3 separate regions of the Homo sapiens genome follow, and all the other regions are linked to region 2. Evidence: fine-mapped expression QTL. A gene starts in region 2. Each other region holds a variant in brackets. All regions are shown on one strand. Distances are from middle to middle.

Region 1 (2,678 bases), 23 kb before region 2:
ATCTGGGAGATTAATATTTGCTTGATACTACCAGACAGATGTAAAATTGTTTCAAAATTACTACACTAAAATCACTGCCAACAATAAAGTACACTTTCTTTATGATTCTTTTTTTCTTAGAACATATCATTGAAGTAATTTAGATCTTATTCTGAATTTCATAAACCATGGGCTACTTTAAGAATGAATGCAGTGAATCTCGGGGGCAAAAAATACAGTAGAGGTGGGGAGGGATATATTAGTGGTCTGGCAGTTAGAAATGCTGGAACTGTTTGAGACAGTGTAGTAAGATTCTGTCTACATTTGATAGTGTTTAACTTTTACCAAGCTTTCCAGCTGCAAGAGGAGCAAATCATACCACTTGTAAATTACACCACACTTGTGGCAGTGTCGCTCATTTTCCAACTCCTTTATTTATTTATTTATTTTTATTTTTTTCTTTTTTTATTATACTTTAAGTTCTAGGGTACATGTGCACAACGTGCAGGTTTGTTACGTATACATGTGCCACGTTGGTGTGCTGCACCCATTAACTCGTCATTTACATTAGGTATATCTCCTAATGCTATCCCTCCCCCCTCCTCCCACCCCACGACAGGCCCCAGTGTATGATGTTCCCCTTCCTGTGTCCAAGTGTTCTCATTGTTCAATTCCCACCTGTAAGTGAGAACATGTGGTGTTTGGTTTTTTGCCCTTGCGATAGTTTCCTGAGAATGATGGTTTCCAGCTTCATCCATGTCCCTACAAAGGACATGAACTCATCCTTTTTTATGGCTGCATAGTATTCCATGGTGTATATGTGCCACATTTTCTTAATCCAGTCTATCACTGATGGACATTTGGGTTGGTTCCAAGTCTTTGCTATTGTGAATAGTGCCACAATAAACATATGTGTGCATGTGTCTTTATAGCAGCATGATTTATAATCCTTTGGGTATATACCCATTAATGGGATGGCTGGGTCCAATGGTATTTCTAGTTCTAGATCCTTGAGGAATTGCCACACCGTTTTCCACAATGGTTGAACTAGTTTACAGTCCCACCAACAGTGTAAAAGTGTTCCTATTTCTTGACATCCTCTCCAGCATCTGTTGTTTCCTGACTTTTTAGTGATTGCTATTCTAACTGGTGTGAGATGGTATCTCATTGTGGTATTGATTTGCATTTCTCTGATGGCCAGTGATGATGAGCATTTTTTCATGTGTCTGTTGGCTGCATAAATGTCTTGAGAAGTGTCTGTTCATATCCTTCGCCCACTTTTTGATGGGGCCAACTCCTTTATGTTAGAACATAACATTTAGACATTCATGTTTTAGGAACAAACTGTTTCATAACATAGGCTGCATTAGGCTAAAACCTATAAAAGTTGTGTTTTGTTCT[A/G]TTTTAAAAATGGACACCTAAGGAAAGGTTAGCTTAGCACACAGTCTGTGTATGGAAACTCTGGCCCTTATGGCAACCTTCTCTCATCTTCCTTTTGGTGCTAAGTAGGAAAAAGAAAAATAGTCTGCATTTATTTGGGTGTTTTGCAAGATGAAGCAGGAATAAGGTGGCCCTGGCTACGTGTTTGCTGCTTTTCATTTTGGGGACTGTGGGTGAGCAACAATAGAACTGTGTATATGGTGATTCTGGTTATTTTTGAAAAAAGGTCAACACTGGTATTTTACTAGAATACTCCAAAAAGTTAAAATATGGAGCACTCAAGAAGGACTTCCTATAAAAATTTTCACTTATCACAATTGTGCTGTTAGTCGTTCACAGTATTTTAATAGTTTTTTGTTGTTGTTGTTGTTGTTGTTCCTCAGGCTGGAGGCAGTGGCATGATCATGGCTAACTGCAGCCTTGACCTCCTGGGCTCAAGCAGTTCTCCCACCTCAGCTTGCCACGTAACTAGGACTACAAGCATGTTCCAACACACCTGATTATTATTATTTTTCTATAGAGACAGGGTCTATGTTGCCCAGGCTGGTCTTGAACTCCTGGCCTCAAGTGATCCTCCCACTTCAGCCTCCCACAGTGCTTGGATTACAGGTGTAAGCCACCACACCCAGCCAATTTCTACAATTTTTAAATTGATTCTGTGGCTAGGAGAACAAATCACCACACTTCTCTGTGGCAATCTCCTATTTGTGCAGTGATATGACAACTACCAACTGTTTTATTCTATACAGAATGTGACTGGCTATGAAGCAGATTTGCTTTGTTTCAGTAGTTGGGTCAGAGATCACCAGACAATTCCAGATAGAATTTTTTAAACTTAAATCTGAATTTGAGCCCTGGATGATTCTGAGGAAACAATGCCAAGGATAAGAACATTTAATATTAACATGTAGATTACAGAAAGAGATCAACATATTTTAAAGCGTGTTCTGCTGCTTTATCTTGCTTAACATATCTCGATATTTTTGGCAGTCAAGAGTACATGTTTAAACTGGAGGTAATTCCATGGTGGGTTATCACTCTTTTCTTGAAAGGAGCATGTGCATATTTCTCTTATACATAAGGAATTCTGATATGTCCAGTTTGATAAAAATCAATCTGCTTAAGAGCCCATTACGCTGCTTTGTCACCATAATGTTCCACCGAAGGAAATCTTGTATAATAGAGGACTTTGCTCATCTTGTTCACTTGGTAGTTGTTCCTTAAAGACACAATTACCTTGGTATAGTTCTATGCAATTA
Region 2 (2,796 bases):
CAAAGAATCAGACACTGCATTAGAACCTTTTTCATTTCAATGTGCCATAAATTTCAACTCCACAAGTCAGATTCAGAATACTAACAATTAAGTTATGCAACATAGGAATCCAAAGAAACAAGAATACTAAATTTGATGGCCTGCTCCCCTTTAAAAAATGTCTTAATGGAGCCTAACCTTTTCCTTTTACTGACAATTCTAAGCAAAACAAAGCCCCACTCTAAATCCGCGGGAAATGGCCCTACTTCAACATTTGAACTATAGTAACAATTATAATCTTTCACCTTCTCTGAATAAAGACACTCAGTAATAAGGAAAAGCAACTACCAGTTTAAGTCTGAAAGACTGTTTAGAGTTTATTTCTTTCAAACTCCAATATGTTTAAGGCCATTTGTCTTACTAGAAAATGTCCAAAATTGCAAAACATTAAAATAATCAGCAACTTTAGACTGAGTATGTTATTCGTAATTTCTGCCTTTCTTTACTGTCTAATTTGTATTTTATGAATTTGTCATAGAGGAGCAGACCTGGGTCGGAATCCCAGCTCGCCATCGTTGGTGTGACCAAGCACAACCAACCTCAAACCTCAGTTTTTGGTAAGATGGGGATAACACCTCGCAGAGGTGTTTGTTACGTGAGGACTAGAGGGAATATAAATCTCTTGGTATTTAAGTGCTCGAAAATGTTTCTGAAAGGGACGTAGGGGTCTTTCCAAAATACACTCCTTGGAGGCACAATAATTAAGGCGTAGGCTCAATTATGCAACACAAGCAACCTAGGAGTTAGAAGCACGGGATCTGGCTGCAGCTCTGCCAAGTATGCAAGCTGCAAGAATGACCCAGAGCGAGTTACTTAATTTCGTGTAAGAAGCAATGCGTGGCCGCTCCTAAGCCATTTCCACTGGGATACCGACCTGACCAGCCCCTGCCCCCCACTCTCCGGCTCTCCCACCCCCCCACCCCGTTCCGACTGTCCCAGAAGCAGCAAAGAAAGCTGCTTCCCAACTGAAGAGCCGAGACAAAGCTTCCTTCTCTTTCTGCCCCTCTGAGCCGCTCGCTGGGGGCCCAGTTTCAGAACCAAGAGCCAGATCCCGTCTTGGGCGCCGAGCCTCGCGCGCCCCCGAGGATAGCAGCCTAGTCCCATGCCATGCACTCCCTCCCTTGGACTCAGGGCCCTCCGCTCAACGGGCCCTACCTCGTTCGCCATGTTCACGGATTCTGGTCGGCGCGGGGGGCTGACATCCGGGGTGGGCCGCGCAGCGACGGAGGCATGGGCGTGGCGAGCGCCTAGCGAGGGGGGCGGGGCGTGGGGGGGGCTTGCAATGGCTCCAACCGGAAGGGCGGTGCTCGAGCTGTGGTGCGTGCCGCTAAGTTGTGCGTTCCAGGGTGCACTCGCCGGCGAGGCTGCACGGCGCCGGTTTCATTGCTAAAATCCGACGGACTTGTTGCAGAACTCGTTTTTTTTGTCGGGAAAGGGCTTCCCCGTGTAACTTTACAGCAGTTATCGTAGATAAGACTTGCAAATTACAGATGTGGACGGTGAGGGAACGGGAATTTCACTGAAAGCGCCTGAGAACCAGTAAGAGACCTGCAACAGCTTTGTGCTCCACTGGCGAATGCTTCCTCCCCTAATACACATTATGTGTGCTTGGAGACACAAGGAGTAAGATACAGCCCCTCAAGGGACTCGTCATAGGGAGAGGACACAGCTTTGGGAATAAAGGGGCCACAAAGGAGGAGAGAGGAGTTTGCTGAAACTTCCCAAGCTCCCATTCCAGCAGTTCCTGAAGGGTAGGTAGGATTTTGGGGAGACAGTAGAACGTGGGCAGAGAACTTTGGAAGGAGGAGATGAGGAGAACAAAAAGTCTCCTGATCCTGGACAGTTTTTTGTGTTAAGAGTGGGCCAGAGTGTAGAGAGAGAGAATGTAGTATTTGTCGGTTTACTCTTTCTTTGTTTGTTTGAGACGGAGTCTCGCACTGTCGCCCAGGCTGGAGTGCAGTGGCGCGATCTCGGGTCACTGCAACCTCCGCCTCCTAGGTTCAAGTGATTCTCGTGCCTCAGCCTCCTGAGTAGTTGGGATCACAGGCACACGCCACCACGCTGGCTCAATTTTGTATTTTTAGTAGAGATTGGGAGTGGGGGCAGGGGGTTGGTCTCACCATGTATGCCAGTCTGGTCTTGAACTCCTAACCTCAAGTGATTCACCCACCTCAGCCTCCCAAAGTGCTGGGATTACGGGCATGAGCCACCGCACCTGGCCTGCCAGTTTACTCTTAAACTCTGTTGTAAACGCTGAATTTTGTTAAAATAGCTCTGTCAGACACACTGCTCTTTTCTGTCTTTCAGTCTTTTTCTTGGCTCTTTTCCGGGTACATATGGTAAGATTGTCCAAAGTCTTTCCGTCCTTTCACTCCACTCTCTCACTCACACTTTGGCTTTTAACGTCTATTTATGGAAAGATGACTACCAGATTATTATCTCCAATCAGGATGGCTCCCCTAAACTCCAGACTTGGACATGTAACTGCCTACTGGATTTCTGTCTCCATTAGGATATCTCACAATCGAATGCAACTCCTAAAACTCCTATTAATATTTTCTCCTTATAGGGACTCTTTCCTCTGTGTGTTGACACTCTCCACATACTTACCCTAGCCAGAAACATGAGAGTCACAACTTCTCCCTCTCCCTCGGTCCCTGCATTCAGTTTGTCACCAAGCCCTAAATATCTCTCTGGTCTTGTGCCTCTCTCTCCCCACTGCTGCTGTATTAGTTCAGGCTTTCATAATTTCTTACA
Region 3 (2,500 bases), 330 kb after region 2:
GTGGAAAACCTATTATCTCACTACCATGTCCATGTCAGAAATGATTAGACTGAATTAAAGCAATGAGCGTGGGCAATGAGATGAGGGATTCTGAAGGAGAAATCAAGGGTTGCATCATCAAGGCTTAGAATTGGTTTGTATGTGGTAGGCAAGAGTGAAAAAGAAGTCAGACATGATGCTATGGCTTCTCATCTATAAAAGAGGAACGCATAATATAATGACTGAGATAAAAATTACTGGCGAAAAAATATTTCCAAGTGGGACATTCAAATAGAGCTGTGCAGGAAGTAGGTGGAAATTGAAGAGTTTAGGTTTACAAATGTTAGTTTGGATGTCCCTGCTTTAAGGTGATATTTGAAGCAAAATTCCTGAAAGCAGAATTTATGTTTCTTTGGAAAACAAATAGTAATTATTTTCCAAGCAGGCCATACTAAGCTGTTAGTTTTGCTTATCTGAGTAAAGTAGTACTGAGTGGTTCTGACAGTTTTTCTTACAAAATCCCATTGTTTACTTGCTTAAAAAAATGTATGTTCATAATATGATGATCCTGTAGGCTAGACCAAATGTGGAGACAAGACACAACATTGAAAAATCTCTCAGGTAAAAAAAAAAATTAGTAAAAATTTGGATCTCAATATACAGTTCCTTTTACTAATGAAATCCACGTCCTTGGCACATAGTGGAAGCTCAATAATTATTTATAGGCCCAATGAGTGAAAGTCATTTCATCTTGTAGACAGGCTTTTTGATTGCTGTTTGAGACCTCCATGAGGTAGATGTTGTAGATAAAATTTGCATGAATTCATACTTGACCTCTATCCTTGCCCAACCCTCAGAAGCAACAAGAGTAGTAATCATCACACCCATGTTTACCCAAAGCTTGCCAAGCTCTGTCAGAGAAGTTTGTTATATGGTCAAAAGAGCACAAGTTTTGCAATTAGTTTATATCCTGGCACTACCCCAGGAGGTTTGACCAGTTATTTATTTGCTTTCACAACCTTGGTCTTCATCTAAAAATGGTAAAAATAATACCTGGCTTACAGGGATCTGAATAATGCACATTTGAGAAAGCACTTTGAAAACTGTAAAATAAGGAAATTTTGTGGC[T/C]TACTTGAAATAAATAGCAGCTTTATGATGAAATAAAAATAGCCACAATGAAATCAACTAGGTAAACAAAATCCAAAAGATTTTAAAAAATTGATTAATATAGTACAATGGCATACTAAGTTGGTGATATGGTTAGACTTTGTGTCCCCACCCAAATCTCATCTTGAATTATAATCCCTATAATCCCTACATGTCAAGGGAGAGACCAGGTGGAGGTAATTGAATCATGGGGCAGTTTCCCTCATGCTGTTCTCATGATAGTGAGTGAGTTTTCACAAGATCTGATGGTTTTGTAAGGGGCTCTTCCCGCTTTGCTCGACACTTCTCCTTCCTGCAGCCTGTGAAGAAGGTGCCTTGCTTCCTCTTTGCCTTCCACCATGATTATAAGTTTCCTGAAGCCCCCAGCCATGCTGAACTGTGAGTCAATTGAATCTGTTTGCTTTATAAATGACCCAGTCTCGGGCAGTTTTTTTTTTTTATAGTAGTATGAAAATACACTAATGCAGTGGGTAAAGAGAAGTAATTAGCTGTATCAATCTGGCTAGATTAAATAATTAGAAATAAAATATGAAGAAAACAGGCACATTTATAAGTACTAAATTTTAAAAGTAGCCTGTGGAGAAGAGACAAGATCATCATAAGAAACAGTTACCTTTGTCCTGAATTGAGCAGCTCAAATCCTTCACTGATTTTTTTAAATGGTAAAACATGAGTTATCAACTGGTCCAGGTCAAATTTCTTTGCCAGGAACTCAGTCACTAGTTTTGGGACATCATCTCTGCTTTTCAAACCTGCAAATAAGCACACATTTTCTCTTTAGACATTACTAAATAATCCTTATCTTTTATTATGTTATATTTATTCCTTCTCTTTCCTGCACTATGACTTTCCCTGTGTTAGATCATTCCCAGCAGTGTACAAATAAGCTGTATTTGTCCCAGCATAAGAAACAAAAGTTATGCAGCCATAAAAAAGAATGAGTTCATGTCCTTTGCAGGGACATGGATGAAGCTGGAAACCATCATTCTCAGCAAACTAACACAGGAACAAAAAACCAAACACCGCACGTTCTCACTCGTAAGTGGGAGTTGAACAATGAGAACACATGGACACAGGGAGGGGAATGACACATACCAGGGCCTGTCGGTGGGTGGCAGGCAAGGGGAGGGAGAGCATTAAGACAAATACCTAATGCATGCGGGGCTTAAAACCTAGATGATGGGTTGATGGGTGCAGCAAACCACCATGGCACTTGTATTCCAACGTAACGAACCTGCACGTTCTGCACATGTATCCCAGAACTTAAAGTAAAATAAAAATTAAATTAAATTAAAAAGAAACAAAGGTTAAAAAAACTCTTCTGATACCCACATCTCCTTCCAGTCACCCCATA

The links. PIP is the estimated chance that this variant, and not a neighbour inherited with it, causes the effect.
Region 1: its variant is the best candidate, but not a certain one, in a credible set for the expression of ADH5 in whole blood (INTERVAL, PIP 0.53).
Region 3: its variant is the best candidate, but not a certain one, in a credible set for the expression of ADH5 in aorta (GTEx, PIP 0.57).

What each region holds. Positions count from the first base shown.
Region 1 is chr4:99,064,961-99,067,638 of GRCh38, forward strand. No RefSeq gene overlaps it. Among named protein-coding and RNA genes, the nearest start is that of ADH5, 22 kb to the right of the region's middle. The variant A/G (reference allele first, on the strand shown) is at 1,381.
Region 2 is chr4:99,087,495-99,090,290 of GRCh38, forward strand. ADH5 (alcohol dehydrogenase 5 (class III), chi polypeptide) reads right to left here and starts at 1,294. Exons shown (of 9, transcript NM_000671.4): 1 at 1,195-1,294. The coding sequence starts at 1,206. LOC100507053 (a long non-coding RNA gene) reads left to right here and starts at 1,363. Exons shown (of 10, transcript NR_037884.1): 1 at 1,363-1,790. RefSeq lists a promoter at 1,239-2,492 and a silencer at 1,277-1,326.
Region 3 is chr4:99,413,719-99,416,218 of GRCh38, forward strand. It overlaps ADH7 (alcohol dehydrogenase 7 (class IV), mu or sigma polypeptide), which reads right to left. Exons shown (of 9, transcript NM_000673.7): 8 at 1,760-1,898. Among named protein-coding and RNA genes, the nearest start is that of ADH7, 20 kb to the right of the region's middle. The variant T/C (reference allele first, on the strand shown) is at 1,108.